Linked DNA regions of Homo sapiens. The protein of the gene in region 1 purifies or fractionates together with the protein of each later gene. This does not show direct contact. Each region holds a gene or a part of one and is shown in the gene's direction. Other genes may lie near its edges. The genes, in order: CEACAM8, UGGT2, EDEM3, TMTC3, RPRD2, CELSR3 and IGSF3.

Region 1 (3,741 bases):
ACTTTTGTAAACAATATTTCTCTAGAATTGATATATAATATCTCCATTTTCTTTTCTTTCTTTCGTTTTTTTTTTGTTTGTTTTTTTTTTTTTTTTGAGAGAGAGAGAAAGACGAGTCTCACTCCTTAGGTCAGCCCAGGCTGGAGTGCAGAGGTGCGATCAAAACTCACTGCAGCCTCAACCTCCTGGGCTCAAGCAATCCTCCCAACTCAGCTTCCCAGGTAGCTGAAACTACAGGTGCATACCATCATGCCCAGCTGAATTTTTGTTTTAATTTTGTAGAGACAGGGTCTCCCTATGTTGCCCCAGCTGGTTTCAAACTCCAGGCCTCAAGCAATCCTCCCAATTTGCCTTCCCAAAGTGCTGGGATTGAAGGTGTAAGCCACCATGCTGGGAGTCCATTTTCATTTCTGATTTTAGTAATTTCCATCTTGTCTCTTTTTTTCTTAGTCAGTCTAGTTAATGGTTGGCAATTTTGTTGATCTTATTTTGAAGAACCAACTTTTGGTTTCATTGATTTCCTCTATTGTTTGTCCATTCTCCATTTCATTTATATCCACTCTAATCCTTATTACTTCCTTCATTCAATATATTTGGGTTTAGTTTGTTTTTCTCCTGTACCATGAAGTTGCAAATTAGGTTGTTGATTTGAGATGTTTCTTCTTTTTTAATGTAAGACTTAACAGTTATAAATTTCTTGCACAAGATTCTTAACTTCTCTGAGCCTCTGATTCCTCAACTGAAAATTGCAGTAACAGTGTTTGCTTCATAGCATTGTTTTAAGAGTTTTATGTAATCATCAATGAAACCTTCAGCAAAATGCCCCACACAGAGGAAATGTTTCATAAATTTTAGCTGATATATTACTACTGTTATCATTAGCTTGAAGCTGAGTAGTCCTAGAATCAAATCTCAAGTCTACTTCTCACCAGCCATATGACATCAGGAAAGTTTTTTCACCACTCTAAGCCTCTGTCGTTTCATCTGTAAAATGGAAATAATGTTCTACCCAAGAGAGTTATTGTATAAATCAAATGAGGTAAAGTATTTAGCACAGGGCCTGGCCCATAGGAGCTGCCCCTCAACAGTAGCTAACATAGCATTAATCATCAGCCTGAGTTGACTGGTGAGGGCCAAAAGTAAATGGTTCCAATAGAAATAAAGAAACAGATGCAAAAGGTTGTGTGTGTGTGTGTGTGTGTGTGTAAAAGGTATCTTAGGTAAATACACACACATATAAAAAAAAGGCAACACAGGAAACACGAGGACATGGTTACTGGTTACACGTGAAAGAGAGAAAAAAAGCTAAGTGCAAAGAATCAAACCTGGTATGTTAGTTTTTAACCCACTGAGATGCAACCAAGATGAGATTAGACACGCAAGATAATTTACTAGGAAAAACACCTGTGAGGGAAAATGGGGCAGGTGTGAGAGGAGCCTGGGAGAGCCCTCAGACCACGATGCAGATTTGATTCCTGTGAAGGAGAAAGAAAAAGAAGTTTTAGATAGCAGTGCAGTTCTAAGTGAGTTTAGGCAAGGCTGATGGGGCGTCCTCCAACTAGTCACCCATCAGAGTTAAACAGAGTCTCACAAAACTGGGCTTGCTTCCATACCCCTGCTGGGAGCCCCTGGGAAGAGAGGTCTCTGTGCAAAGGAGGTGGTCAATTTGGAATGCACTGACCTGGGCCTTCTGTCAATCAGCTCCCTGCCATAGAGACCTGCCACAACTAAGACACTGAGAAAAAGATGCAACCATGAAAAGGTGGAAAGTTCTAATGACACATAAAATAGCAATCAGCTTTTTCACATCACAAAGCCTTCAAAATATCTGAGTAAAGAAATGCCAGGATGAAATTGACCGAAGACTGATCGTCAACCTAGAAACATGGTGAGAGGAAAAAATCCTGCAAGAATATAGTTGGCTAATCACGTCCCAGCAACCTTCCCACAAAAATAATGTATTCCTTGAAAAAACAAGTAGAGACTACTTCATGCTAGGAGCTGGTTCCTGGGGTACCCCACTGTAAAATGGCATCAACTTCATTCCTTCTCTTCTTTTCTTTCCATGACAGATGCTTTAGTACAAGGAAGTTCTCCTGGCCTCTCAGCTAGAGCCACTGTCAGCATCATGATTGGAGTACTGGCCAGGGTGGCTCTGATATAGTAGCTCTGGTGTAGTTTCTGCATTTCAAGAAGACTGGCAGGTATGATGGCCTTTCCTCTTGTCCTGTTTCCTGCAGGGCTGACCGCCATGCTTGGGAGAGAGACCTGTATCCCGGGAATGGATCTCCTCCTCCTCCCAATAAACTCCTGCTTCTCAGCACTAATTCCTGCAGGTCTCTTCTTCCCTGGTCTGCATGCTCCCTGTACCCCACTGTCTCTTAGATGTGATTATTCCCAGCCTCTGCTCATTTGTTTCCCAGATTCAATACACTATGAAAGTCTTTTGATCCTTTCTTAACATCTCTCACTTGTGTCATTTTATCCATTCCCATAGACCTCAACAACTGCTCGAAGTCCTGCTTGACTTCTTGTCTCTAGTATTTGAAATCTTCCTTGCATATGATTGTCTCATTACCTTCCTAAAATCTAGTTCACTCACTTACTCAAGAATCTTCAGAGGCCTACTCTGGCCTATTTGATAAGTTCACATTTCTTCTCTTTACTAATTCTTCTCACTTCCATTCCCTCTACTCCCTAGTATAATTCCTCCATCCTAATTAGAACTGTCTTCCTACACTTCCCTGCGCATCTACCCCATATACACATAGAATTCTTAGTTCCAATGCTATGCCTAGAAACAGGGTAATCTCCCATCCACTATCTGAACTGTGGAGTTGCCCACATACCCTTCAAAGCAAGCAACCTCTGACCTCATGGAGAACAACGACTCTAGCATTAATGTGTGAACCTGAGATTCAGGACACAGCCTACGTGTGGTTGAGAACCTTTTCCTGATGACCAATTCATGTGTTCATGAAAGATACAGAAATGAAAAAGGCAAGATCCCTACCCCAGAGAACATACAGCCTAAGACAGGAGATAAGATATGAAAAATAATCATAATACCAAAATAGAAAAAAGTGAATGCCACAAGAAATCAGAGAAATCTGATGGGAAATATAGCCACACATTGGAATCACTGAGAAATGTTTTTTTAAATGATGCTCAAGCCCCATCCATAAATTCTTACCTACTATCTGGAGTGGGACCCAGGCATTGGTAATTTTTAAGCCTTCCCAGATGCTACTAACATGTAACCAGGATGGAGAACTCCTGTTCTAATAGGTAGCACATGAGGCTAAAACAATGGTTCTTTAGCTGGGAGTATTAGAATTTCCTAGAAAACTTTTTCAACATATACAAGCCTATATTTTGCTGGCCCTGTTCATTAATGGGCTCCACCAAGAACTCAGTAATCCAGTTGAGAAACAGAAGCTAAGTGGAAAAGCCACCTTATTTTATATATATATATATATATATATATATTTTTTTTTTTTTTTTTTTTTTTTTTTTTTTTTGAGACGGAGTCTCGCTCCGTCGCCAGGCTGGAGTGCAGTGGCACAATCTCGGCTCACTGCAACCTCTGCTTCCCAGGTTCAAGCAATTCTCCTGCCTCAGCCTCCCGAGTAGCTGGGATTACAGGCACCTGCCACCACGCCCAGCTAATTTTTCTATTTTTAGTAGAGACGGGGTTTCACCATGTTGGTCAGGCTGGTCTCGATCTCATGACCTTGTGAT
Region 2 (5,298 bases), on another chromosome or scaffold:
AAGACATTCACTGTCAATATTTTATTTCCTTAATCCCACAATCTCAATAAAAATTTCGGTCTAAATATGAGTGGAAATGGGGAGTTAATTAAAGCAAATAATTGTGAAAGATTCGTAATGTATTTTTCTCGTATACACTATGGATAGAAATGAAGTGCATTTGCCTTAGCTTTCTACATTCTTTCCATAAAGCAAGGGTTCTTCAATCTTCATGGAGTCCCCAAATAACATGTGAATGTGAAGTATTGTGCTAGGTACTGCACGGGATGCCAAAGATGAACAAGGCATGAGTTCTGGGGGAATATACTATCTCTCACAGGAGAAATAAGTAAGTAGCGTACTCAAGTATTAAAGTGAGAACTTAAGTGCTATATGGCAGTTACAATAAAGAGGAAATTTAAAGTAAGGATAGATCATACCAAGTAGGATAAATCAGGAAATGAAGGCTAAACTTTGGAAGTGAGAAATTATTCTGGAAATTCGTGGAACTGCTTAGCGGAATAGGGTTTTCTAAGGAAGGGTACTGACTAAGCAAATGAAACGAAAAAAGGGAATGACTATGTTTCCGCAACTTCAAGAGATCCAGCTTCCCTGCAGGGCAAAGGAGTAACAGGAGAGAAAAAAAGCAATGAATCCGTGCATCCGCTAAACTCTTTTACCATATATTTTACTCTGACAAAACAACTATCACGTATTGGCCTTTTGTTTGTTTGTTTTTTTGAGACACGGTCTCCCTCTTTCGCCCAGGTTGGAGGGCAGTGGCGCAATCACCGTTTTCTGCAGCCTCTACCTCCTCGGCTTAAGCTACCTTCCCGCCTCGACCTTCCAAAGTGCTGGGACTACAGGCGTGAGCCACCATGCTCAGGCTTATTGGCACTTTTCTGTGCACTTTTAAATGTAATCCTCTAAATCACTCTTCTCCACCTTTCCTGTGCATAGGAATCACCTGTGGTTCCCGTTAAATTGGAGATCTTGATTCATTAGGTCTGGGGCGGGGCCTGAGCTTCTGCATTTCCATTGAGCTCACAGCTGAAGCCTACCCTGGACCACACCTTCCAATGGAAAAGGCTCCAGTGTGATTTCTAGCCACTAGTATTATCTGCGAACTTGGGAGAAATAAAATGCAAGTTCTCGGCCCCCGCAAGGGCTCTACTGAATCCGAAACACTGTGGGGAGGCCCACCACTCTGCAGTGTTTTAACAAGCAAGTGGTTAAAGTTTGAGAGCCACCCGTAAGTCACGGGTTTCCTAACATGATTGGACACTGGAATCACCTGCGGATTTTTTTTTTTTTTTTTTTTTTGAGACGGAGTCTCGCTCTGTTGCCCAGGCTGGAGTGCAGTGGCGGGATCTCGGCTCACTGCAAGCTCCGCCTCCTGGGTTCACGCCATTCTCCTGCCTCAGCCTCCCAAGTAGCTGGGACTACAGGCGCCCGCCACTACGCCCGGCTAATTTTTTGTATTTTTAGTAGAGACGGGGTTTCACCGTTTTAGCCAGGATGGTCTCGATCTCCTGACCTCGTGATCCGCCCGCCTCGGCCTCCCAAAGTGCTGGGATTACAGGCGTGAGCCACCGCGCCCGGCCTGCGGATTTTAACTAATACTACTGATGCCGCATCTCACCCCCCCTCCCGAGATTCTCAGGTACGGGGCGTGGCCTTGGCGGCGGCCTTATAAAAGCTCTCCCAGGTGATTCCAACCTGTAGTAACACTTGAGAACTGCGTGAGGTGGGGACTTCAACTTTAACTGGACTTATTTTCCTCCTATGTAAAAGGTGGACAATATGCAAGTGGTCCTGACTTTGCTTCCAGATTTTGGCAACTCCAGAGCCCTAGTTCGGTCTGGAGAGCCAGCTTCCCGCCCCGTGTCCTAAGGCCTCTGTCCGAGAACCCAAAGTCCTGGGAATGGACCCGCGGGAGCGGACCCGCGGGAGCATCTGTGACGCCGCTCAGCAACCCGGCGCCGCCCCGGCGGCTCCGACGTGGCCCAGTGTCCGGCTGGCGTGGGCTCTCCAGGCCGCACCCACTAAACCGCGCCGGAGCGGGACACGCATGCGCCGGTCTGGACCCGGCACCCAGTAACGGACTCGAGCTCCTCCCACCGGAAGTGGGCAGCCGCGCAGCGGGAAGAGCCGGCCGAAGCGTGGCGGCCACAGACTGTGGGTACCGGGTCCGAGGGACTCGCGCTTTTCTCTCCGTGCCATGGCGCCAGCGAAAGCCACGAACGTGGTGCGGCTGCTACTAGGCTCCACAGCGCTGTGGCTTTCGCAGCTCGGCTCCGGGACGGTCGCCGCGTCCAAGTCGGTGACTGCCCACTTGGCCGCGAAGTGGCCCGAGACCCCGCTGCTGCTGGAGGCAAGGTGGGTGCGGGCCGGGCCCTCGTCCGGGCGGGTGTGGGCGCGCTGCCACCCTCAGCCGCGCTTTCTTCGTGCTCGCAGCGGGTGTCTGGCTCCCACCCGGGTTCTCCAGACGCCCCCGCTCTGGCCCTGAGCATCACCACCTCCTTCCTTCCCGACCCGGGGCGGCTTCTCGGTTCCCGTGCAGCACTCACTTGCAGTTCCTTTCCCCCTCAGTCTTACTTTACCTACGATTTTTAAAGCTTCCCTGCCCTGCTTTAATACGTTGGGATGTATTAGCATTTACGCGTGGCACTTAACGCAAGAGCTTCTACTGGGGTAGGCAGTTCTGTTCAGACAGTGCTTAAAGTACCTAGTTTCGTAATGATGACATCATACCATCAGCTCCTAGGCTTACTATGGGGAGGGCAGCTTCCTGCAAGGTAATATTTTTCCTGTATCTCTTCCAACGGAATTAGTTCATGACCTGTCATTTACTCTGCAGAACAAAACTTGTAGCTATTGCATTTTGCCCTTTAGTATTCTAGTTGAGTAAAATTAGAAAGTTCTTTCTCTTAGCAAAAATGAAGTTTTACACCAATGACTTAATGGCTGTTCACCACAGCAACAGTGTGTGTCCCTAAAAAGAGACTCCATGACTCCACATAAGTTCATGTATTTGATGCTAAAAGTTCTTTTTTTTTTTCATTTCTATAGTTTATTGGGGAACAGGTGGTGTTTGGTTACATGAGTAAGTTCTTTAGTGGTGATTTCTGAGATTTTGGTACACCCATCACCCCATCAGTATATACACTGCACCCAATTTGTAGTCTTTTATCCCTCACTCCCTTCTCAACCTTTCCCCCGAGTCCCCGAAGTCCATTGTGTCAATCTTATGCCTTTGCATCCTCATAGCTTAGTTCCCACATATCAGTGAGAACATACTATATTTGGTTTTCCATTTCTGACTTACTTCACTTAGAATAATAGTCTCTAATCTCATCCAGGTTGCTGTGAATGCCATTAATTGATTCCTTTTTATGGCTGAGTAGTGTTCCATCATATATATGCCACAGTTTATCCACTCGTTGATTGATGGGTATTTGGATTGGTTCCACATTTTTGCACTTGTGAATTGTGCTGCTATAAACATACTTGTGCAACTATCTTTTTCATGACTTCTTTTCCTCTGGGTAGATACCTAGTAGTGGGATTGCTGGATCAAATGGTAGATCTACTCTTAGTACTTTGAGGACTCCCCACACTGTTTTCCATAGTGGTTATACTAGTTTACATTCCCACCAGCAGTGTAGAAGTGTTCCCTGTTCGCTGCATCCACGCCAACATCTATTATTTATTTTTATTTTTTTATTATGGCCATTCTTGCAGGAGTAAGGTGGTATCGCATTGTGGTTTTGATTTGTGTTTCCCTGATCATTAGTATGTTGAGCATTTTTTCATGTTAGCCATTTATATATCTTTTGAGAATTGTCTATTCATGTCCTTAGCCCACTTTTTGATGGGACTGTTTTTTTTTTCCTGCTGATTTGAGTTCCTTGTAGATTCTGGATATTAATCCTTTTTCAGATGTATAGATTGTGAAGATTTTCTCCCGTTTTGTGGGTTGTCTGTTTACTCTGCTGACTATTCCTTTTGCCGTGCAAAAGCTGTTTAGTTTAATTAAGTCCCAGCTATTTTTTTTATTATTATACTTTAAGTTCTAGGGTACATGTGCACAACGTGCAGGTACATAGATATACATGTGCCATGTTGGTGTGCTGCACCCATTAACTCATCATTTACATTAGGTGTATCTCCTAATGCTATCCCCCGCTCCCCCAACCCCACAACAGGCCCTGGTGTGTGATGTTCCCCATTGTGTGTCCAAGTATTCTCATTGTTCAGTTCCCACCTATGAGTGAGAACATGAGGTGTTTGGTTTTCTATCCTTGTGATAGTTTGCTGAGAATGATGGTTTCCAGCTGCATGCATGTCCCTACAAAGGACATGAACTCATCCTTTTTTATGGCTGCATAGTATTCCGTGGTGTATATGTGCCACATTTTCTTAATCCAGTCTATCATTGACGGACATTTGGGTTGGTTCCAAGTCTTTGCTATTGTGAATAGTGCCGCAATAAACATGTGTGTGCATGTGTCTTTATAGCAGCATGATTTATAATCCTTTGGGTATATACCCAGTAATGGGATGGCTGGGTCAAATGGTATTTCTAGTCCTACATCCTTGAGGAATCGCCACAATGTCTTCCACAATGGTTGAACTAGTTTACAGTCCCACCAACAGTGTAAAAGTGTCCCTATTTCTCCACATCCTCTCCAGCACCTGTTGTTTCCTGACTTTTTAATGATCGCCCTTCTAACTGGTGTGAGATGGTATCTCATTGTGGTTTTGATTTGCATTTCTCTGATGGCCAGTGATGATGAGAATTTTTTCATGTGTCTGTTGGTTGCATAAATGTCTTCTTTTGAGAAGTGTCTGTTCATATCCTTCACCCACTTTTTGATGGGGTCGTTTAATTTTTTTCTTGTAAATTTGTTTAAGTTCTTTGTAGATTCTGGATATTAGCCCTTGGTCAGATGGGTAGATTGCAAAAATTTTCTCCCATTCTGTAGGTTGCCTGTTCACTCTGATGGTAGTTTCTTTTGCTGTGCAGATGCTCTTTACTTTAATTAGATCCCATTTGTCAGTTTTGGCTTTTGTTGCCATTGCTTTTGGTGTTTTAGACATGAAGTCCTTGCCCATGCCTATGTCCTGAATGGTATTGCCTAGGTTTTCTTCTAGAGTTTTTATGGTTTTAGATCTAACATTTAAGTCTTTAGTCCATCTTGAATTAATTTTTGTATAAGGTGTAAGGAAGGGATCCAGTTTCAGCTTTCTACATATGGCTAGCCAGTTTTTCCAGCACCATTTATTAAATAGGGAATCCTTTCCCCATTTCTTGTT
Region 3 (4,650 bases), on another chromosome or scaffold:
AAATACTTTCTAGTTATTCCAGTTTCACTAGTTCTAAAACTAGCAATTTTGCAAGTAACATTATTTTTATTTGACATGTGTTTTTTGCCAATTCTAATTTATAGTTTTTTAAGCCTTGCCTGTAATTACTTTTAGCAGAGAGGAGAGTTTCAGGAGTGGAGCTAAACCCCCTCTGAGAGCCAGAGATTTCATGGCCACTAACCCTGAGCATTTAGAAATCCTGAAGAAGATGGGGGTGAGTTTGATTCACCTCAAAGATGGGAGAGTCCAGTTGGTCCAACATGCAATCCAAGTAAGACATTGCTACACTAATTAGATACCGTCTCTGCCCTGCTTTCTTTGGTCGCATTAGCTTTAATAAGATAATGGATTTCAACTTTCTAAACACTTTAAATATACTGTTTAAAGTGAGAGAATGAGAATTTTAGGACTTGGAAGTATCTTGGAAAGTCACCTAATTCAACTCCTTTATAGTATAAATCAATTAAATAAATCAGAGCTAGGTTGGGTAATTTGCTGAAGTTAATATAATCAAATGCAGGACTCAAATCTAAGTTTTCTGTTTCTCAGTCCATTGGCTTTCCCCTGTTACTTTTATTTACAACATAACTTCAAAAACTAGTAATTAGTTTTAATATTCATATCTCCATGTTTTACATCATTTTAGTCTCCAAAGAGCTACTGAATCTTAAGTATTTTGTTCATCATAGGTATTTATTTGTCTGTGCCTAGGAAAAATAACATGTCTTTTTGAGAAATTTTTATTGATTTTTACTTTGAAAGTTTTTATAACACAAAGTTTTTAAATTATTTACCTTATTAGTATATTGATTCTGAGAAAACCACATAGTTTGCTGAATAATTTTTAACCTAGAACCATATTCAGGTATCCTTTAATCTCAAATTCAACCCTCCCACAACTTCATCACACCCTCAAGTTTTCATCTCATCCATATTCTTGCCACATCCTTCCTTCTTTTAAGAGTATTCTTCCTTCTTCCTTGTATTTTATTTGGCCTCAGTGGGAGTGACATCTCTTGTGACATTGCTTTTACTTACTTAGGCTGCCAATGGCATAATTACTGCCAAGTGGCCTCTTGATCCTTATATGATTTAACTTTTCTGTAACTATTGGCTGAACCCTTCATAAAACATTTTCCCTTTTTGGCTTCCCAGGATATTTCAGAAACAAAGTTCTTTTTCTACTTCACTGTTTATTGCTTTGTAGCTCTCCTTGGCACAACCACTCAATGTAAACAGTTTCCAAGAATCTGGATGATATTCTTTTCTCTATATACTCTTCTTCAACAGTGTCACCTATTTCTACAAGCTTAGCTATCATTTTTATACATATGACTTCTTAGCTATGTATGTGAATCCTGATTCCTAAATTTACTATTAAATTCAACTTTCATCTACCTCTCATACATCTTGCATCTCAATCTCAATCTGTCCAAACTTGAATTATCTCTTTCTTGTTTACTCTCTTTCTACCCTCACCTCAACCTATGTTTCCTTCTTTGGCTCTCCATGTCAGTAAAACCTATCATCATTCTTTAAGTCATCAAAGCTGGAAATTTCAGGATAGGTTTGAACTCTTCTTCTCTTCCAGTTCCTCTTATCCTTTTCCATCCTCTAACTTCTATCATGTCTTGTTGGTTTTTCCTGTAAAGTATCAGGAATCATCTTATTTTTTTCTATTATAGTCATTCTTCAACTTTCCCTCTGTTAAGACTCAATTCAAGTGTCATTCTAAATCTTTCCCAGGTACACACAAGCAGAATCAATTGTTCCCTCATCTGTGCTCCTTTTCCACTTTCCCACTTGAGAAATTTTATCATAGCTAACTTTACATGTCTTTCTCCTCCAGACACAAATTTCTTAAAGGACTGTCTCTCCAATGCCTAGGCAAGTGCTGAGATGGAATAAGTGCTTCACAGATATGTTTTGAATCAAATTGAATCTGGTTGTTCACTATTTCAAGGAGGGAAAGTGTGGGTCAGGTATGAGGTTTATTTCTTCAGAGGGAAAGCCAGTGGGGAGAATAAGCAAAGTGAGCATTTGAGCATTCGCTAGAAGTCCAGTTCTCAATCTGAATCAAAAGTGGTTTATAGAATAGCGAAAGTGACATTGATAAAAAATACGGATAAGTTATTTTCAGAAATACTATTTCTGAAAGTATTATTTTTGAGTACAAATAAGGTCATAAATACTTGGTGGTGACCTAAAGTGAAAGAAGAAGTTGTAGAGTAGAATACTACAGTACAGTGTCTTTAGGAAATCAAAAAATTGGTGGAAGTTTCCAGAAAGGAAGGATAAAATGAATTTGTTTTTTTCATAGGCTGCTAGTTCAATCGACGCTGAAGATGGGTTGAGGTTCATGCAGGAGATGATTGAATTGTCAAGTCAGCAACAAAAAGAACAGCAGCTGCCTCCACGAGCTGTACAAATTGTTTCCCACCCATTTTTTGGCAGGGTAGTATTGACTGCTGGACCAGCTCAGTTTGGGCTGGATCTGTCTAAACATAAAGAGGTATGTATACTTAAAATATAGTTGTTGAAACTGAATTTAAAATATTAAGTATTGCCTTATTTCTTAGTCTCTTCTCTAATTTAGTAGTTTTAATTTATTTAAAAAACTGAAATAGTCAATCTCCTGGATTTAAGTAAAGTAAAAGCATGTCTTGAAAACTTTGAGTCATAATTTATGTATATAATATGCTTACAGAATTTTAACTAAAATATTATTCAGGTTCTATTCAATTTCTTGGTCTCTTCTCTAATTTAATACCTGTAATTGATCTAAAAATGGTTTTCAGACTTTCTAAGAGCCACTAGAACCTTTCTTTGAACAAAAGTCTAAACCAGGAGCTTAATGTAGAAAACAGCTAAAAGCACAGAAGCTCTGGCTCAAGTGACTGGAGAAAGCCTGGGACCCTGAGGTTCCACTGGGCAAACTTTGAAGATCATTTAGCTAGTCCATCCTCTATAGTTGTAACATAGTTATAACGTAGAAAACAAAGACTTACATAACTAAGCAATTCACAAAGTTATCTAACTAATTGATTGCAGAGCTGGGACCAGAGCCCAAGTATCGTGACAATCTAAAGCCAATGCTCTTTTCACTCTATTACTGCTAATTTAGACTTTTTTCTCATGTATATTTTAAACTATGTAGAAGCTATATAGATTGATTGATTCATTCAACTGTTGATTGAGTGCCTACTATATTCTGTGCACTGCTTGCTGTATCAGTTTACAAAACCAATGAAGATCCATGCCCTTATGGAATTTACATTTTAGTAGAGTGAAGGATATTAAAACATCTTTATAGTAACGTGTTTAAAAAAATTAGTTCCTTGGTGGATTTAATTTTTTTGGTAAAAAGAACTGCTTGCAGATTCATATAGACTAAGTCCATTTTTTCCCCTTTCAAAAACTTTTCTTGTTACCAATGATCATTTCAAATTAGTTCCCAGCTATTGTAAATGTAGTGAATCTGCCTGCAGGTCCCAACTTTACTGCTTAGTAACATCGTGTTAACATTGTGAGCAAATTACGTAACCTGAGTCTCAATTTCCCCATATGTGAAAGGGAAATGTTATTTGTATTGTTTTGCTCAGGGTCATTATAAATAACAGATTTTGTAGTTTATATAAAAATGTTCTATAAACTGCAAAGCACACTAGAAATATTGGTTGAGTACTGTGATATGCAAAATGTTTAAAACAATATTTTATGGTGACTATATGTTAGATACGTTATCATTAGAAAAGAAATGAGTTCTAGTTCTTTTAAAACTCTAGATATTGAGGTTTAATGACTTGATTGCCATTTGAGAAGATTAAAGTATTTAAGTTGCTTTTATTTCTGACAGACAAGAGGATTTGTTGCAAGCAGTAAACCATCCAATGGTTGTTCAGAGCTTACTAACCCAGAGGCAGTGATGGGAAAAATCGCACTGATACAAAGAGGACAGTGCATGTTTGCAGAAAAGGCACGCAACATCCAGAATGCTGGAGCCATTGGTGGCATTGTTATTGGTAAGTAATCATCCATGTCATTGTGTTGACTGAAGGGGAGATAATTTTTAGGATTTTTTCCCTTTTATTTTCTAAAATTTTATCAAAGAGTTTGTCATAGTTTTTTTTACCTCACCTAGACAACAAGGATAGGTAATCCAATGACTTTTAATTTCTAGATATCTAACATCTTTTTTAAAAGTCTAGATTTGAATTTCTGTATATTAATGTCAGTGAAAATACTTGGGTTTAGGTGTGAGGGTGAGGTAGGGCTGAGTAGTAAAAAAATTCAGTACCATGGATAAGAAAAGGTGCCCATGAGATCCATAACCCCCGAAGGGCAAGAATTACACTGTGCCACGTCCAGTGGGGAGCCATTGAAAATTTCCATTACTCCACAAAGATGCAGGCTTTGGAGGCAGACACATGAGAGTACAGTTCCTGGCTCTACCACAAAATTGCAGTGTAACCTTGGCCTAGCTTCAGTTTTTTAATCTGTAGATTAAATAGTATAATTTTTTTTTATTTGATAGTAGAATATTTTTGAGCTCCAGTGGAAGTGATAATAAATATATTTTAGGTGATTGTAAGGTTTAAAGATATATAAAATTTCTTGGCATAATAGCAG
Region 4 (4,190 bases), on another chromosome or scaffold:
TAAGGTTTGTAATTGTAGAACTTGAACTTTTTTGTTTTTTTGGCTTTTTTTTTGCAATAGAAATTATCTCAATGGAGATTTGTTTCCTGCCAGGCAGTGGCTGATGCCTGTAATCCTAACACTTAGGGAGGCCAGGGTGGGGAGGATCACTAGAGGCCAAGAGTTTGAGAATAGCCTAGGCAACATAGTAAAACTCTGTCTCCACAAAAAATTTTAAAATCAGCAAGAAATGATGGCACATGCCTGTAGTCCCAGCTACTCGGGAAGCCAAGGTGGGAGGATTGCTTGAGCCCAGGAGTTTGAGGTTACAGTGACCTGTGGACACAGCACTGCCCTCCAGCCTGAGTGACATAGTGAGACCCTGTCTCAAAAAAAAGAAGATACATGTTTCCTAAATCCTAATTTTATAGCCCTATATTTAATGGTATGTTTTTGTCCTCGAAACATTCCTAAAACTTTGAAGTAACATTTTTTAAAATGTGATACAGTCATTCTGAAGCTTTTTTCTACCCAGTAATAGTTACTATTTGCTGAACATTTTTTCGATATACAACATACAATTATTAGAAAACTCAGTTAACCCAGAGAAGTTAAGTAACATGTTCAGTGTATAAAGTCATAATGTTATCAGAATCAAGATTGAATACATGTCTTTGTTGGCAAATCCCATGCTTCTTTTTCTGAATTCTCTATTTTCCTTCTATTTCCAATTGAATTCTAAATTATAAGAGACATTTCTCTCCTTTTGGTTTCTGAAGCACTGTTACTGCTTTAAAGGAAAAGAAATAAGCTATCTTTTTACTGTTTCAAATATTTTGCTTTTCCTATGAAGACTTCGAGATTTTTGCTTTCTACTTTTTTTAACTATGGAAATTAGTTGTTTTGAAGCTGTCTTTTTGTAATCTAAGTATTTGAAAATGGCTTTGTTCCTCACATTTAATTATTTTATTAACAATATATTTTTTCTTTAAAAAAACTTTCTAGGTGAGGTTAAACTCAGACCTGAAGCTAGAAAACGACTTCTAAGTTATATAAATGAAGAGCCACTAGATGCTAATGGGTATTTCAATTTGGGAATGCTTGCCATGGATGACAAAAAGGACAATGAAGCAGAGATTTGGATGAAGAAAGCCATAAAGTTACAAGCCGACTTCCGAAGTGCTTTGTTTAATCTGGCTCTCCTGTATTCCCAGACTGCAAAGGAATTAAAGGCTTTGCCAATTTTGGAGGAGTTACTCAGATACTACCCTGATCATATCAAGGGCCTCATTTTAAAAGGAGACATTCTGATGAATCAAAAGAAAGATATACTAGGAGCAAAAAAATGTTTTGAAAGGATTTTGGAGATGGATCCAAGCAATGTGCAAGGAAAACACAATCTTTGTGTTGTTTATTTTGAAGAAAAAGACTTATTAAAAGCTGAAAGATGCCTTCTTGAAACACTGGCATTAGCACCACATGAAGAATATATTCAGCGCCATTTGAATATAGTCAGGGATAAGATTTCCTCATCTAGTTTTATAGAGCCAATATTCCCAACCAGTAAGATTTCAAGTGTGGAAGGAAAGAAAATTCCAACTGAAAGTGTAAAAGAAATTAGAGGTGAATCCAGACAAACACAAATAGTAAAAACAAGTGATAATAAAAGTCAGTCTAAATCCAACAAACAATTAGGAAAAAATGGAGACGAAGAGACACCCCACAAAACAACAAAAGACATCAAAGAAATTGAGAAGAAAAGAGTTGCTGCTTTAAAAAGACTAGAAGAGATTGAACGTATTTTAAATGGTGAATAACATTAATATTTATCGTGACAATGGTATCAAAGAACATCAATCCGTATCATGTGATTGCTTTTACTGGGAGCTTTGAAAAAAAGTTCAAGGGTTCCTAATGGTCAATCATGAGCTGCCTTGAAGTAGGATCAAAATAAGATTTTCATTAAAGACCTGTATTATCCCAGGATGTATATTATGTATCGCTGTTTTCAGAGTGTGGGTGAATATAGCAGAAATATTACAGCGGAAGTGACAAATTTACAACTTTTATTATAGAAAGAAGGTGTTTCTGGCAATGTAATCTTTACTGCTCTCAATTAAAAATAATTTTGAGGCCTGAATGATAATCCCTTGAGGACAAATCCAACATGTGCTGGTTTATTCTGTTAATTCCCATTTATTTGCCTACTTCATTTTTCTTGCACCTCTTAGAATCTAACTATGAATTGAAAACACTTAAGTAATTCTGTTTAATCAAGGGATTTACACTACAAAAGAATGCTGGCTTTTTTTATGTTGTATTCCTTAGTTGAGTTTTAGAAGGAATGCTTGATGAAACATTTTAAAATAAGTCATGACATGTTAGCTTGAGAATGTATTTTCATAATTGTATACTTGTTTTTAACTTTAAATGTAATTTTTAATCAGGTAAAGTTTGACACATGTATAGCTACATACACACATTTTTAATGGTGCTCATATATACTGTATTTTTTGTTGTTTAGTTTTACTTATTGAGAGTGTCACAACATGAATCACATAATCATGATTTTTTTTTTTTACTTTTACTCCCCAAATTATTCATGTTTCTTAGATCGTAGTCATTGAGAAGTCCCAATAACTCTAAACTTTTGAGTTATAACGTAGTAAACTTCTCTTTCATCTTTGTGTTAGCTCTGTAGTCTTAACCTGGATTTTAATTTTTTTGTTTCCAAAGTCACAATTGAATTATTCTTAGATACCTTAAGCCACTGAATTCAGTTCTGTTTGACTGAAAGCAAAACAACGTGACAGTTTATTTTCAAACACTAACTTCTTGATATTTTGTTATGGTATATCTTTTTATTAAATATTTATTTTGACTAAGCTTTCATAAAATATTTGAAGCTATTTTAATCATCAAGTATGGAAAACAAATTACTATTGCATTTTCCTATATATGCATATATTATGGATTAACCAGAATTGTATCATTTTTGGCCTAATGTCTGGATATAAAAGATAATTAGCCTACTATAGTATTAATAAATTTTTCAGTTGGTTTGGGCAAATTTAAACCTGAAAAATAGGTTAAAAAGTAGTTACAAATTAAACTTACTAATTTATACCTGATTTTTTTTCTTGAATTAAAGTACATTTTAAATGAGCTTTATAATACCTTAAAAAGTTGGTTCTAATTTAAAATATGAAAGCTCTGGCTATCATCCTGGGATAGTAATTTCTAATTATATAGTATTTCAAAACTATATATTTTTTAGTTCCTTTGAGATAACTAATTTCTAATTATATATGTTTCAAAAACCATATCCTGTATTTTTTTTAAGAATTGTTTTATAAATAGGTCATAAGATACAAGGTCTGCATTAGAAGACCCACTCTTACTAGGTTCCCTAAGGATCTGCCATAGATTTTTTTTTTTTTTTTTTTTTTTTTAGGTAGTTTAAAGCAAGCACTGATACCAGTGGGAGTTGGTCTTGATCTAGGAGATTCTGTTAAGCATCCAAAAACAATGCCTAATTTCAGTTCTTAGGTTATGGCTTGTGACTCCAGATAAAAGATGGAGAATACCTCATGTACTGTGACTTGAAAATGAATTCTTAAAATTCTTAGGCTCTCTCCATGTATCTTTCTTAAGGAAAAGTTTCTGAGTGTGATCTCTCTTTTGCCATAGTATCAAGTGGAGGGTAGTTCAGAAAAGTTAATAGGAAATCTTTTGTGACAGCAGACTATAATAGAAGTTTGAGTAATATTTTAATAAATTTATATAATTCAAATGATAAAAATGTATCAATGTTATCCAATGATTTTTATTAAAAAATTACCTTATTATTAGAACTGTGCCTATTACATAAAAAGTGCTCATGTATTTGAATTTTAAATAATTTATTTAAATCAAGACCACCATAAGTCATTAATAATTTAATAATTGTTTTAAATCAGTGGTTTTCAACCCTCACTTCATATTAGAATCATCTGAGGACTTTTAATATGGAATCCACCTCATAACAATTAAGTCTAAATTTCTGGAAGATGGAGCCATGCTTGTTTTTCCAAAAGCTCTTTGAGTGATTCTAATTTGTAGTCAGAGTTGAAGACCACTGCTCTAAATTAGTGCAGGAAAATGCTTTTATTTCTCCCATGTTAACTTTTAAAACTAGTAATGTACCCAGTTAAGTTTTGATGGTTTAAATT
Region 5 (3,610 bases), on another chromosome or scaffold:
CCAGCCAATTCTGTCCAGTTATAGCCACAGAGCCCAAGAATTTGGGGTAAAGTCTGCCTTCCCTCCATCTGTAAGGGCCCTCCTGGACTCTAGTGAGAACTGTGACCGTCTCTCATCTTCCCCTGGGCTATTTGGTGCCTTCAGCGTAAGAGGGAATGAACCTGGGTCTGACCGGTCACCATCACCGAGTAAGAATGATTCATTTTTCACCCCTGACTCCAACCACAATAGCTTGTCTCAATCTACCACTGGGCATCTCAGTTTGCCACAGAAGCAGTACCCAGACTCTCCTCACCCAGTCCCACATCGTTCCCTTTTCTCTCCGCAGAACACCCTTGCCGCTCCCACGGGTCACCCACCCACGTCAGGCGTGGAGAAAGTCCTGGCCTCCACCATTTCCACCACGTCGACGATTGAATTTAAGAATATGCTTAAAAACGCCTCACGTAAGCCCTCAGATGATAAGCATTTTGGCCAGGCTCCCAGCAAGGGCACTCCAAGTGATGGTGTCAGTCTCTCAAACCTCACCCAACCCAGCTTGACCGCCACTGATCAGCAGCAACAAGAAGAGCACTACCGCATAGAAACCCGCGTCTCCTCCTCCTGCTTAGACTTGCCTGATAGCACAGAAGAAAAGGGGGCCCCTATAGAAACCTTGGGTTATCACAGTGCATCCAATAGGAGGATGTCAGGGGAGCCGATCCAGACCGTAGAGTCCATCCGAGTTCCTGGGAAGGGAAATAGAGGACATGGGCGTGAGGCTTCAAGGGTGGGTTGGTTTGATCTGAGCACATCAGGTAGCTCTTTTGACAATGGCCCTTCAAGTGCCTCTGAGTTGGCATCCCTTGGGGGTGGGGGCAGCGGAGGCCTCACTGGCTTTAAAACAGCACCATACAAGGAACGGGCACCTCAATTTCAGGAGAGTGTCGGCAGCTTTCGTTCCAACAGTTTCAACTCAACATTTGAGCATCATCTTCCCCCATCCCCCTTGGAACATGGGACACCCTTCCAGAGAGAGCCAGTGGGGCCATCATCTGCCCCACCTGTCCCTCCTAAGGATCATGGTGGTATCTTCTCTCGAGATGCACCCACTCATCTACCCTCTGTGGATCTTTCGAACCCCTTCACAAAGGAGGCAGCCCTGGCCCATGCTGCCCCACCCCCTCCTCCTGGAGAGCACAGTGGAATTCCTTTCCCTACCCCACCTCCTCCTCCCCCTCCTGGGGAACATAGCAGCAGTGGTGGGAGTGGTGTCCCCTTTTCTACTCCACCCCCTCCTCCACCCCCTGTTGACCACTCTGGAGTTGTACCCTTCCCAGCCCCACCACTGGCAGAGCACGGAGTGGCAGGGGCTGTGGCAGTATTTCCCAAGGACCATAGTTCCCTCCTTCAAGGGACCCTGGCTGAGCATTTTGGGGTACTCCCAGGACCCAGGGACCACGGGGGCCCCACCCAACGGGACCTCAACGGCCCTGGCCTTAGCCGTGTACGAGAGAGCCTCACCCTACCCTCCCATTCTCTGGAACACCTGGGCCCACCCCATGGAGGAGGAGGTGGGGGAGGCAGCAACAGCAGCAGTGGCCCCCCCTTGGGTCCCTCACACAGAGACACCATCAGCCGGAGTGGTATAATCTTACGGAGTCCCCGGCCAGACTTTCGGCCTAGGGAACCTTTTCTCAGCAGAGACCCATTTCACAGTTTAAAGAGACCCAGGCCACCTTTTGCTAGGGGCCCTCCGTTCTTTGCACCAAAACGCCCATTCTTCCCTCCCAGGTACTGATGGAAACCAAGGGAAAGGCATTTTGAACAGTCTAGAGAACATTGGAAGTAGGAGTTTGGTTTATTGTTGTTGTTTTTATTTGTTTTCTCTTTCTCGATTTTTTTTTTATTATAACAAAGGGCCTCTCTTCCAAAGTAAGAAATCACATACGCTTACGTTTTACTATTCAATTCAATCCTCCCTCCCATTGCACTTATCTACCTTCCCCAAGTTGTTTGTATTAAAAAAAAAAAAAAAAAAAAAAAGTAAAGAAACACAACCAAAGCCATTTCATTTGGCTGGGGGGTTGGGGAGTGGGGAGGAAAACAATCTTTATTTTACCCCATCTATTGAAGAGTATTATTACATTTGAAATAAAACTTCCATCAGTACAGATAACCACATGTGCAATGTTGGGATGTTATTTTGGGCTTGGCTTATCGAGTAGTCAATGGAAGGATTCCCGTCCCCTCTCTCGGCAGCTTAGTAACTGCTGTAGCCAGCTCGGCTCCCTTCCCTGTGTATCTGTGTCCTGCTAACAGCCAAGAGATGTTGCAAGGGAGGAAATGTGAGAGACCTTGAACCTGTCAGGTTTATTTGTTTTGTTTTTAAAGGCATGTTGAAGTTTAGTTCTTTACCCTTCTCCTAAAATCTTTTTTTAATCAGCCTCAAGGTTAAAATAAGGAGTGACTACAGTATGTAAAATAAGGAAAGGAAGCATTAATGGTGTGATGTGACCTGCCTGTTTTTTTGTAAACAAGAGAATAGGAAATGTTTTCAAGGTAGTTTCACATGTCTTGCACCAAGCTCATGCCTCTTGCTTTTCCTTTTTGACTTTATCTCCCTCAGTTTTTCTTCTGCTGTGGCCAGAAAGACAGTCACTACAGTTGACTATTGATACAAAGGTGCAACAGAAATATTATCCCTGCATTTTTAAATATAAGAAGTAGACATTAATTTTACCATGGTGCCTCCCTAATGTAAGTGATATTTATTGGTGGTTTTCAACAAAGGTTAACTATTAAAGAAAGAAATATTTGTCTTTATCTTCCTTTTCCCCTTGCCTCAGTCGTGTTATTCACCCCTATTCTTGATATTTTAAAGGAGGAGATTCAGTAGCATTTTCCTTTATATTATACACATGTGTCTATCCCATTTCAAGGCTCAAGTCTTACCCCCACCTCTCGCTCCCAATAGGAAATAAAGACCATTTCTGCCCTTAGTTGTTTTACATGCAAGATAAGTGCTTTCCTTCTCCCTGGACTGAAAGACTTGTTTGTATTTCTACATCTAGTACTTGGGAAATAGACAATCACTGTACTTTGAGTGTTTATATCTTTATATCTAGGGACACTGAAAAGTAAATGTTGCTTTACTACAATTTTTTTTTAATTTAGTGTCTTACCCCAAGGCATACTCAACTGATAATCTCCAGCTAGATGAGTAAAACAGTATGTGTTTAGTTTTCCAGAGAATTCTGGCAAGTTTCATATTTTCTTCCAAGTTAGTATAGAACTAACTATAGGAAGTATGGGGTTGCTTTTTCCTCCAGTAGAATATTAAAGATGGGGGAGGGTGGGCAATGTAGTGACAGAAAATGATTCTCTCAGAATGAACTTTTCAGAGAAAGAGCAGCATAAACCAGGTGCACATCATGATTTGGGAGTTTTTGCGTAATTTATTCTGTTATTTATTTGGGCTCGCCATGTGTTCTGGGGTTAGGATGCTGCAGGTCATTCATCTTCTTAATGCCTGTCTGGTCTTAAGCCAACTGTTCTTTCTTTCCTCGACCCTCTCTGCCCTGTAGCTCTCCCCACAAAAATGCATGATACCATGACCTTACGTGTGGGA
Region 6 (4,650 bases), on another chromosome or scaffold:
ACCTGGGGCTGGCATTTCGGACACGGGCAACGCAGGGGGTCCTGATGCAAGTGCAGGCTGGGCCACACAGCACGCTCCTTTGCCAGGTGTGTCCACCCTGCTCACCCCTATACCCTCAGTTCTCAGTCTCTTAGGCCGCCACTGACATTCTTGTGGGTTCAGGTTGGTCACACAGCATACTTTTCTGCCAGGTGTCCCAACCACACTTGACCCTGCTCTGGACCCTAGCCCTTGATTCTCTTTCCATCATTATATCCTCTGCAGGTGCAGGGCTCCAGCATAGCTCTCTCTTATGCAAGCTGCACCAACCCACCCACAACACCTGGTCCTATCCTCTGCCCCCTGACCCCATATCAGCAACATGATGTCCCCTGGCACAGTGCCCTTTGTGCCAGGTATAACCTTGACCCCACTGTTCTGACCTCTGATATTCCTGACCTCTGAGCCCTCTGATCTCACCTCCAAGTCCCAGCCCACATGGGGCTCTAACCCCAGGGCTATGCATCTCTGCCCACAGCTAGATCGGGGGTTACTGTCTGTGACAGTGACCAGGGGCTCGGGCCGTGCTTCCCATCTCCTTCTGGACCAGGTGACTGTCAGTGATGGCCGGTGGCACGATCTGCGGCTGGAGTTGCAGGAGGAACCAGGTGGCCGGCGGGGCCACCATGTCCTTATGGTCTCACTGGACTTTAGCCTCTTCCAGGTCTGGCCTCTGACCCCGGGGTAGTCTGTTCTCAGCCTTCCAACCAGATCCGCCTTATTTGACCCCACCTCTAGTCCAGCTCCTCTCAGTTCCCTCCACTGCACTGAGTCTGATGTTCTACCCCTAGTTCCCCACCATATATCCTTGCACTGAGCCCACCCACCAGCCAAGTTGGTCCACTCTCAAGCCCTCTTTGTGCCAGATTTGGGGCCTGGTCTTGGGGAACCTCTGTAGCCAGCACTTTGCCTGATTCCTAGAAGCCCCTTCTAGTCTCTGCCCCAGTCTCTACCCACCCCCGGTCAAAATCAAGCAATATTAAGGTCTACTGTGGGTCCAGGAGGGAGGGGGCAGCCTAGAAGGGCTAGAAGAAGGCCAAGACTGACTCTGGGCTATGACAGGGGTTCATCAGGCCCCTCTCCCTCAGTGCTGACTGCCCCACTTCCTCCAGGACACCATGGCGGTGGGGAGTGAGCTGCAGGGCCTGAAGGTAAAGCAGCTCCACGTGGGAGGCCTGCCCCCCGGCAGTGCAGAGGAGGCTCCTCAGGGTCTGGTTGGCTGCATCCAGGTGGGGGTCAGCATGGGAATGTGATATGGGGCATTAGGGTCAGGGGTCAGAAGTCAGGGGCTCCTTGGGACCTGAAAGGCAGTATTCAAGTGGGGGTTGGTGCGAGGGGGTGAATGACCCAGAGTTGAGAGCTAGGTCAAGCCTTTCTGTGGCATTGGAGGTGGGAGTCTAGCTTGGATTATCAAGGGCCTTTAGGAATCTGTGTCAGAAACAGCACAATTAGGGTCCCACAGGGGTACCAAATTGGGGATATTTTTGAGGCCTGGGTTTTTTGAGGGTATCAGAAGACTGCATGTCAAGGATCATCAGACCGGGTGGCTGGCTCTGCAGTACTTGAGGCTGAGGTGCCTTAACATGGTCTCACCCCTTGCTGGCTGTGTGTCCACAGGGGGTGTGGCTCGGCTCCACACCCTCTGGCTCCCCGGCCCTGCTACCCCCCAGCCACCGAGTGAATGCGGAGCCTGGCTGTGTTGTGACCAACGCCTGTGCCTCTGGGCCCTGCCCACCTCACGCAGACTGCCGGGACCTCTGGCAGACCTTTTCTTGCACCTGCCAGCCAGGTGAGCCTTGAGAGGGTTGGGGGAAGGGTGACCTGGGCAGGCGTTAGGGGCCCATGATGAAGACTGGGGAACCTGAAGGAGGCAGGGACTCGGGACGGGTGCCTGCTTCCTTCCATGCTCTGCGACCAGGATCCTGAGCTTTCTGACCCAATCTGCAGGTTACTACGGCCCAGGCTGTGTGGATGCCTGCCTCCTGAACCCCTGTCAGAACCAGGGATCATGCCGGCACCTGCCAGGAGCCCCCCATGGCTATACCTGTGACTGTGTGGGTGGCTATTTCGGGCACCACTGTGAGCACAGGTAAGAGGCTGGGGCTGAGGCGATGGGGAGACCTGGCAGGGACAGGGAGGGTCACTGGGATACCGTGGAGGCATCTTACCTGGCTCTGCACCCCCAGGATGGACCAGCAGTGCCCACGGGGCTGGTGGGGGAGCCCAACCTGTGGCCCCTGCAACTGTGATGTTCACAAAGGTTTTGATCCCAACTGCAACAAGACAAATGGGCAGTGTCACTGCAAGGTGCGCCTGGCCCCTGACCTTTTAACCCTTCCTTGGACGCAATCTGCAATTCCTGTCCAGCTTGCTGACCTCCGCCACCTGACTTGGGCCCTAACCTCTTGCCTGTGTCCTGTGACCAAGTTGCTGTCTCTCATCCTTTACCCGTGACCCCTCCCTTGGCTTCACGCATGACCCAGGTGTCCTCTGGCCCATGAGCACTGTTCTCTTGACCCTTTATCCTTGATTCCACTCATTCCCCAAGCCCTGACCTCTGACTTCAGGCCCCTGGCCCATCCTCAAACAGGAGTTCCACTACCGACCGCGGGGCAGTGACTCTTGCCTCCCATGTGACTGCTACCCTGTGGGCTCCACCTCGCGCTCATGTGCACCCCACAGCGGGCAGTGCCCCTGTCGCCCAGGAGCCCTTGGCCGCCAGTGCAACAGCTGTGACAGTCCCTTCGCAGAGGTGACAGCCAGCGGCTGCCGGGGTGAGCAGGCTCCACCCAGCTCCACCCATAGAGGGCTGGTTCCAGTGTGCCACCATCACGTGTCAGTGGCACACATGGCTCCTTGGGGACTCTGGAAGCTTCTCCTGAGGGAGACCACTTACACCCAGGGAACCCTACCTTTGCCCCAAGTACTTTGCTGACCTGTCACAGAATCTGACAGGTCAGCTCCTGAGAAGCCAGCAGGAGTGGCGGGCAGTGGGCCTTGTGGGGGGTGGTGGAGGGGCAGTGGGTGTGGCTGTCAACTGCCCTGTACCCTGACTGCCTGGCTCAGCACCTCTTCTCTCTCTAGTGCTCTATGATGCCTGCCCTAAGTCCCTGAGATCTGGTGTGTGGTGGCCCCAGACAAAGTTTGGCGTCCTGGCCACAGTGCCCTGTCCCCGGGGGGCCCTGGGTGAGTATGTGGGGGGAAAGGACATCACTGAGGGTGGGGGTGGGCCTGTACTCTGACTGCTAGAGCCATGTCTTTTCCTAAATTGGGTGGCTTTGTTCCTGCAAAGAGGTGGAAGTGGGGTGGGAGTCCATGTGGGCCCCTCCCTACACCCTCATTGAGCCTCCATCTGTTTCTCTTGGCTTCTGGGCAGGATTGCGGGGTGCAGGTAAGGGGTACGTGTTTGCTCAGGTGCACTGCCCCCTCCCACTACCAGAGCTTTTGCAGACCCCTCCTGCTGCCTGAGGTCCCTGCAGACCCCTCCCTGCTGCCTAAAGTCCCTGCAGGCCCCTTCTGGCTATCTGAGTACCCCAGGGGCCCTTCTCTGATGCCTGAGATCCTCAGAGACCCCTCCCCATTGCCTGAGGACCCTGCTGACCCCTTCTCAGTTCCTGGGGTCCCCATAGAACTTTCCCCACTGCCTGAGGTCACGAAAGATCCCTCCTCAGTCTGAGGACCCTATAGCTCCTTCCTGCTGCTTGGGGGCCCCTCCCCACTGCCTGAGGTCCCCTCAGAACACTCCCTGCTGCTTGAGGTCTCTGCAGTGGCTGGACAGAGATTGTTTGTGTACGCATGCTCACGTGTGTATCTCTGTGCCTGTGCACGTGTCTGTGAACCTGTTGCGGGGAGGGGATTCTGTGATTAAGTTAGGCTCTCTCTTGTTGGTAGCTACAAACTTTTTTAAGATCCAAGTCAATTCTCATTCAACCTCCATCCCAACCCCAGAGACAAGGGAGAGAAATGACAGCAAAGTAACCACTGGGGCAGTTAAAACTTGTGTGAGAATCCTCCCACCTGACTTTCACTGGATGTTCCTAGAAGCCCTCTTCTGTGTTGGCATGTCTGTGTGTGTGCGAGAGAGCATTGTGTGTCTGCGTACTGGTCTGGTCCATACATCTGTGTGTAATTGGTGAGCATTGGTGTGTGTCTGTGTGAACCAGCACATCTATGAGCCAGTCCTGGCCCACGTGGGTGAGTGTGTGCAGCCCCACCCTTGTGCTTTGTGTGGTTGCTGGTTGAGAATGGTCTACAGCCCTCTCAGGAATTGCCTGACAAGCAGCTGGGGCCTACCTGGGCTTGGGCCGCTACCTCCAGGGGTGCAGCTATAGATGCTCATGACTCTGACTTCTGCCTCAGGGATTCCCCCAGCATAGGAGAGGGTGCTGCGGTTATCTCCTCAGCAAAGGTATCCAGGCCCCAGGCCTGACCAGGGGTTGCCTGCCTCCAGGTGCTGCTGTGCGGCTGTGTGATGAGGCCCAGGGTTGGCTGGAGCCCGACCTCTTCAACTGTACCTCCCCTGCCTTTCGAGAGCTCAGTCTGCTGGTGAGACTGCCCAGACCTTTTCCTGCAACCTAAGACCTTCCTTGGCCTGTGGTGGGCCCCAGATAC
Region 7 (4,650 bases), on another chromosome or scaffold:
ATTCCAGTCTCCCCTGTGCCTCAGGAAAGGTCCTACCTGCCCTGGAGATGTGGGAGGAAATCCAGAGCATAGAATAGGAGCTGACCCCTTGCCCACCTGTCAGACGTGCACCAAATTTAAAAAATGCCTCTCTTTCAAGCTTCTCAACACTTCACAATATTTTGACATGGGAAGGAAAAAAAATGGAAATGCTTTGAAACATTTCTCTTCCTTGAATTCATGTTCTCAGACCATGTGACTGAATAGAAGTTTAGTCATAGGATTCCAGTTTAACATATGCAGTTACTATAGCAATTGAGGTTTCCTTAGTAACAGTTGCAAAAATAATCCGGCCCCAATTAATAATACATTTTAAAGCTCTTTCTACTCCATGCTGAACAACCCAGTTTTTTTGGCCAAGAACCAGATAATTCAGGTGGTGTCATTTGCACTGATATAGATATCATTTGCATGCGGTGAATTGGGTTGGAAAGGAATGAAAAGGGAGCCGGTTGTTTCAAGTATTATAGGAATCCAATCTGAAAAGTCGACTGGCAAGCGAATGCAAATCTAGTTTCCAGAGCTTGGGAGCTTAATGGTAAACCCTGTCCTGGATTCCTAGTGTGCCCTAGAGGACTTTCTGCATTTGAAGAAGGGAGAAGGCAGAAGATTGGACTTGCTAACAAAAAAGATGAACCCGGGAGGGTGGGGCCGTGGCACACAGGATTTCTCTCTAAGTGGTGCCTGGTGTGTTCTTGATGGCGTGAGAAGGTCTGTGGGTTTGTGAATTCAACAAGTCTTCCTGGAGAGAATGTCCGATTTACTGCGGGAGATGCTCCGCAGTGTTGCTCAGTCATGGCATTGGGAATTGGACTTTGCCACACCTTGGCTTGCTAAATCCTTCCATCCATTCAGAACATTTGTCTGTGTGTTACAGGGAGACCAAGTGGCAGTCTGTGGCTTTCACAAGTTTTGGTTCTGTGATGCATGGGACTCAATCAACCCTTGATGCTGCCAAACCAAGCTTAAGCCAGCTGGCAGGCCAGGGTCATGACCAGTGGGCTGGGTCCTGGGTCTGGATGCAGTTCCTGGGGTTGAGCTGGACTAAAGAGACAAGAGTCTGACCAGTAGAGTGCTGGAGCCTGGCCAGGCATCCCTGCCCTGCCCCTGCCCCTGCCCTCCACACAAGCTCGGTTGGAGGAGGCCTAGGTTGCTGTCCCTGGGTGGAATCTGCACCTTGCCCCTGCTTTCTTTCTCAGCTGGGAAGTGGTTTGGTCCCTGTGGCGGAAAAACTAAGTGTGAAGAGAGTGGTGGAGGTGGAACAATTCTTGTACTATTAGTTCCCTAAGAGGAACTTAGAATTGTTTTTTTGTTTTTTTTTTTTCATTTTTAGTAGCGGGAAAGGCTTGGGTAGGGGAATGCAGAGCCGAGGTTAATGATGATGGGGTGGGTGAGATCTCAAATCACCTTCCTAAGATGGATTTCATTAGACCTTGGCTTCTTGCCACTGGCAAGGTGAACATCGTCATTAATTAGCTGCTGGGGAGGCGCTCCACAGGCTGCCCTCTTGTCTGTTTTTGGAGCAGGACAGTGAGGAGAAGGGAGGATTGTAGTTGGCTTTGCCTTGTCCCGTGGTTTACTGTCTTCTCAGCCTTCTCTCTCACTCCCCCAGAGGAAGCCCCCTCTCCCCCCGCCCGCAGCATCCTCTAATTACCTGTTGCCGTGTTTCTCCAACGTGCTCTCATTCGCTCACCCACTCGTTCACCTATTTCAGCAAACACTGATCAAATGCTTTCCTGGCCCAGGTGCTGTGCTAGGCTCTGGGGGTGCAGCGATAAGAATGTCCGCTAGGCAGTCCACCCCATGAGGGCTGGGACTCCGGCTTACTCTTCAGGGCATCCCCAGCACTTAGCATCCTGTGGGAAACCGAGTGGGCACTCCGTAAATACTGGCTGATTGAGTGGAAGGAGTTTGATCCCTGCCCTGGGGGAGCTCACCATCTAGGATATGGGAGAGAGATGTGAGGACACACAGCCCAGAGATATATAGAGGGTGCTGAGGAAGGGTATGGAGCCCAGGGGGACGGGAATGAGGGATAAGTGGAGAGAAGGGTCAGGGTGGGAGGTGGCAGAAGGAGACAGGCAGAGAGGACAGCAAGGGCAAAGGCCAGGGCTCAGGGAAACTGCACCAGGGGCATGCGCCTGTGGAGGGTGCCTGAGGGTGAGTCGTGAGAGATGAGTCAGGACACTTGGGTGAAGGCCAGATCCTGAAGGGACTTTGTGCTGTGAAAAGGAATTGTTTCTCTCTGGCCCGTAGGTAGTTCAGAGCCATTAAACTTTTCAAGCAGAGACCTGATATAGCTAGATTTGTATTTCAGCAGGATCACCCTTGGAGGCCCTGTGATGGTGGGCTGTGCAGGCAGTGGATAGGGGAGAGATGGTGAAGGCCTAAGCCAGGCGCATGGCAAGGAGGAGACAGGGAAGGATGTTTAGCGGTGGCCTGGGCTCCGTGCTGCCTTCCTCACACTGAAGCCAGTCGGTGTTAAATCCCCCAGGAACTGTGCTGGAGGAAACCTGGCTCAGAGCCTGGAGGTGGATGGGCCACGTTTCTGGGAGTCTGTGGTGATTCCTGTGTTCCCCTTTCCTTTGCAGTGACAAAGCTGCAGGTGAGCAAATCGAAGAGGACCCTCACCCTGGTGGAAAACAAGCCCATTCAGTTGAACTGCTCAGTCAAGTCTCAGACTAGCCAGAACTCCCACTTTGCGGTGCTCTGGTATGTCCACAAGCCCTCGGATGCCGATGGCAAGCTTATCCTGAAGACCACCCACAACTCCGCCTTTGAATACGGTACTTACGCCGAGGAGGAGGGCCTGAGAGCCAGGCTCCAGTTTGAGAGGCATGTGTCGGGGGGCCTGTTCAGCCTCACCGTCCAGAGAGCCGAGGTCAGCGACAGCGGCAGCTACTACTGCCACGTGGAGGAGTGGCTGCTGAGCCCCAACTACGCCTGGTACAAGCTGGCAGAGGAGGTTTCTGGGCGCACAGAAGTCACTGTGAAACAGCCAGGTAAGGCCGCAGGGCACGGCTGTCCTGGGCCAGTGGGTTTAGTGCAGAGACTGCCTGGGGGTGGGTGGGGATCTGTGGGGCTGGTGTGGAGAGACTGTCTGCAAGGTGCATGCTGAGTATGGGTGCAGGTACACGGACCATCACCCTAGCACACTGCAATCCCATCCATTTTACCTGCAGTGGGTCCTGATGCTGACGGCAGACTCATGGAAGCATCCTTGACTCTGCTTCTGTGGATACCATCTTCACCAAGGAGCAGGGCAGCTGTGGTTAGCAAAATGTGGCAAGGCAGGGTTCATGGCAGCTCCTGAATCTTCTTCTGGGTTTGCAGTTTGCACCCTGAATCTTGGGCTGACACCAGCTCCACACCCAGAGTTCCTACCTAGAAGGCATTTTCTGGTTTTATGCATCTGCATCCCCCTTCTTCCTTAGCTCCCAGCCCGCCCAGACAAGCCTTTCCTATCTCCAAACTGAATCATTCCTCCTCTGGCCCTTCCTTGATCCCATGGTGTAGCCCTTATTCCTCTCCCTCACAGGTGGCACTCAACCTCTGCCAGAATGCTTCCAGGGAGGGAGAGCTATTCAGTCCGCAAGCCTCAGTTCCATTTTTGGGCAGCTCTGATTGTTAAAAAGTTCACTTTCCTGTAATTTCCCTTTTTAGATCTGCCCCTGGAACAACCAAAGAGAAGTCTGCGTCATTTCCTTTCAAATACATGAAATGTATGCCCCTTCTCTGTTAAAGATCTCTAGTCCTTTCAACTTCTCACATAGTGTAGCCTGAAGGGCCTCTCCACCCCTCATTCTCACATCCCTGCAATTCGTTGTTGTCACTGCCTGTCCTTCTTGATGGGCCATGGGGGGTGCTGTGTTGCCACCCAGAGCCTCATCTCCGTGCCTTCGCTTGTGCTGCCCTCATTGTCTGAAATGTGTTTTTCCTGCTGCTTCTCCCTTGTCTTCACTCCATCCCTAAGACTTCATTCAGCACCACCTCCAAGAAGCCTACCCTGATTTCTCCCATACCAGTAGGGGTCCCTTCTAAAACACATAGCCTAATAATGGTTTGCATTTCTTCTGTACTACTCTGTAAGCATGTTGAGGACAGGGCTGTGTCTTATATCTTCAGCCACTGGCATGGTACTTTTAGTAAATATTGGTTGAATAAGGAATAAATGGTTGCTTTCCTTGATCACCCTAAGGCCTTTGTACTTATTGTTCTGTCAGCCTGGAACATGTTGGCCATAGATATTCATTTGTCTTGCTCTTCCGTGAAGGGGGATTCCTAGCTCATTTTAACTTAAATGTAGCCCCCTCATCACTCTAGATTTCCTTTCCCCGGCCCTTTCACAACACATATCACCACCTGACATTCTGTTAATTTACTTATTCATATATAAGTAATTATGAAGTATTTACTTATAATTGACTTATCAGTTACTATGTCTTATTATTTTTATACTAGAATACATATATATATACACACACACACATTTGTTTTCTATCTCTTCTACTAGAATTGAAGCCTCCTGAGTAAGCATAGGGACTTGGTTTTCTTCACTATTGCTTGTCTCCTAAGGAGGCCTATTCAGTAAGCCAGTGGAACCCGATACCA

What was found.
Region 2: the proteins of CEACAM8 (region 1) and UGGT2 purify together in Homo sapiens (affinity purification with mass spectrometry; one large-scale study listed by BioGRID and IntAct). This does not show direct contact.
Region 3: the proteins of CEACAM8 (region 1) and EDEM3 purify together in Homo sapiens (affinity purification with mass spectrometry; one large-scale study listed by BioGRID and IntAct). This does not show direct contact.
Region 4: the proteins of CEACAM8 (region 1) and TMTC3 purify together in Homo sapiens (affinity purification with mass spectrometry; one large-scale study listed by BioGRID and IntAct). This does not show direct contact.
Region 5: the proteins of CEACAM8 (region 1) and RPRD2 purify together in Homo sapiens (co-immunoprecipitation; one large-scale study listed by IntAct). This does not show direct contact.
Region 6: the proteins of CEACAM8 (region 1) and CELSR3 purify together in Homo sapiens (affinity purification with mass spectrometry; one large-scale study listed by BioGRID and IntAct). This does not show direct contact.
Region 7: the proteins of CEACAM8 (region 1) and IGSF3 purify together in Homo sapiens (affinity purification with mass spectrometry; one large-scale study listed by BioGRID and IntAct). This does not show direct contact.

The regions. Positions count from the first base shown.
Region 1 is NC_000019.10:42,581,669-42,585,409, reverse strand, and holds part of CEACAM8 (cell adhesion molecule CEACAM8 precursor), read left to right. Parts: intron 1-1,701; coding exon of another isoform or gene 1,702-1,731; exon of another isoform or gene 1,732-1,888; intron 1,889-2,072; coding exon 2,073-2,164; 3' UTR 2,165-2,204; intron 2,205-3,741. UniProt on the Homo sapiens protein: Cell surface glycoprotein that plays a role in cell adhesion in a calcium-independent manner. Mediates heterophilic cell adhesion with other carcinoembryonic antigen-related cell adhesion molecules, such as CEACAM6.
Region 2 is NC_000013.11:96,050,215-96,055,512, reverse strand, and holds the start of UGGT2 (UDP-glucose:glycoprotein glucosyltransferase 2 precursor), read left to right. Parts: upstream 1-2,111; 5' UTR 2,112-2,200; coding exon 2,201-2,358; intron 2,359-5,298. UniProt on the Homo sapiens protein: Recognizes glycoproteins with minor folding defects. Reglucosylates single N-glycans near the misfolded part of the protein, thus providing quality control for protein folding in the endoplasmic reticulum.
Region 3 is NC_000001.11:184,706,036-184,710,685, reverse strand, and holds part of EDEM3 (ER degradation-enhancing alpha-mannosidase-like protein 3 isoform 2 precursor), read left to right. Parts: intron 1-135; coding exon of another isoform or gene 136-138; coding exon 139-292; intron 293-2,341; coding exon 2,342-2,533; intron 2,534-3,858; exon of another isoform or gene 3,859-3,877; coding exon 3,878-4,043; intron 4,044-4,650. UniProt on the Homo sapiens protein: Involved in endoplasmic reticulum-associated degradation (ERAD). Accelerates the glycoprotein ERAD by proteasomes, by catalyzing mannose trimming from Man8GlcNAc2 to Man7GlcNAc2 in the N-glycans.
Region 4 is NC_000012.12:88,193,854-88,198,043, forward strand, and holds part of TMTC3 (protein O-mannosyl-transferase TMTC3), read left to right. Parts: intron 1-984; coding exon 985-1,796; 3' UTR 1,797-4,190. UniProt on the Homo sapiens protein: Transfers mannosyl residues to the hydroxyl group of serine or threonine residues.
Region 5 is NC_000001.11:150,471,555-150,475,164, forward strand, and holds part of RPRD2 (regulation of nuclear pre-mRNA domain-containing protein 2), read left to right. Parts: coding exon 1-1,780; 3' UTR 1,781-3,610.
Region 6 is NC_000003.12:48,649,055-48,653,704, reverse strand, and holds part of CELSR3 (cadherin EGF LAG seven-pass G-type receptor 3 precursor), read left to right. Parts: coding exon 1-86; intron 87-517; coding exon 518-703; intron 704-1,151; coding exon 1,152-1,268; intron 1,269-1,656; coding exon 1,657-1,828; intron 1,829-1,986; coding exon 1,987-2,128; intron 2,129-2,225; coding exon 2,226-2,346; intron 2,347-2,629; coding exon 2,630-2,813; intron 2,814-3,123; coding exon 3,124-3,225; intron 3,226-4,489; coding exon 4,490-4,584; intron 4,585-4,650. UniProt on the Homo sapiens protein: Receptor that may have an important role in cell/cell signaling during nervous system formation.
Region 7 is NC_000001.11:116,587,085-116,591,734, reverse strand, and holds part of IGSF3 (immunoglobulin superfamily member 3 isoform 2 precursor), read left to right. Parts: intron 1-2,630; coding exon 2,631-3,041; intron 3,042-4,650.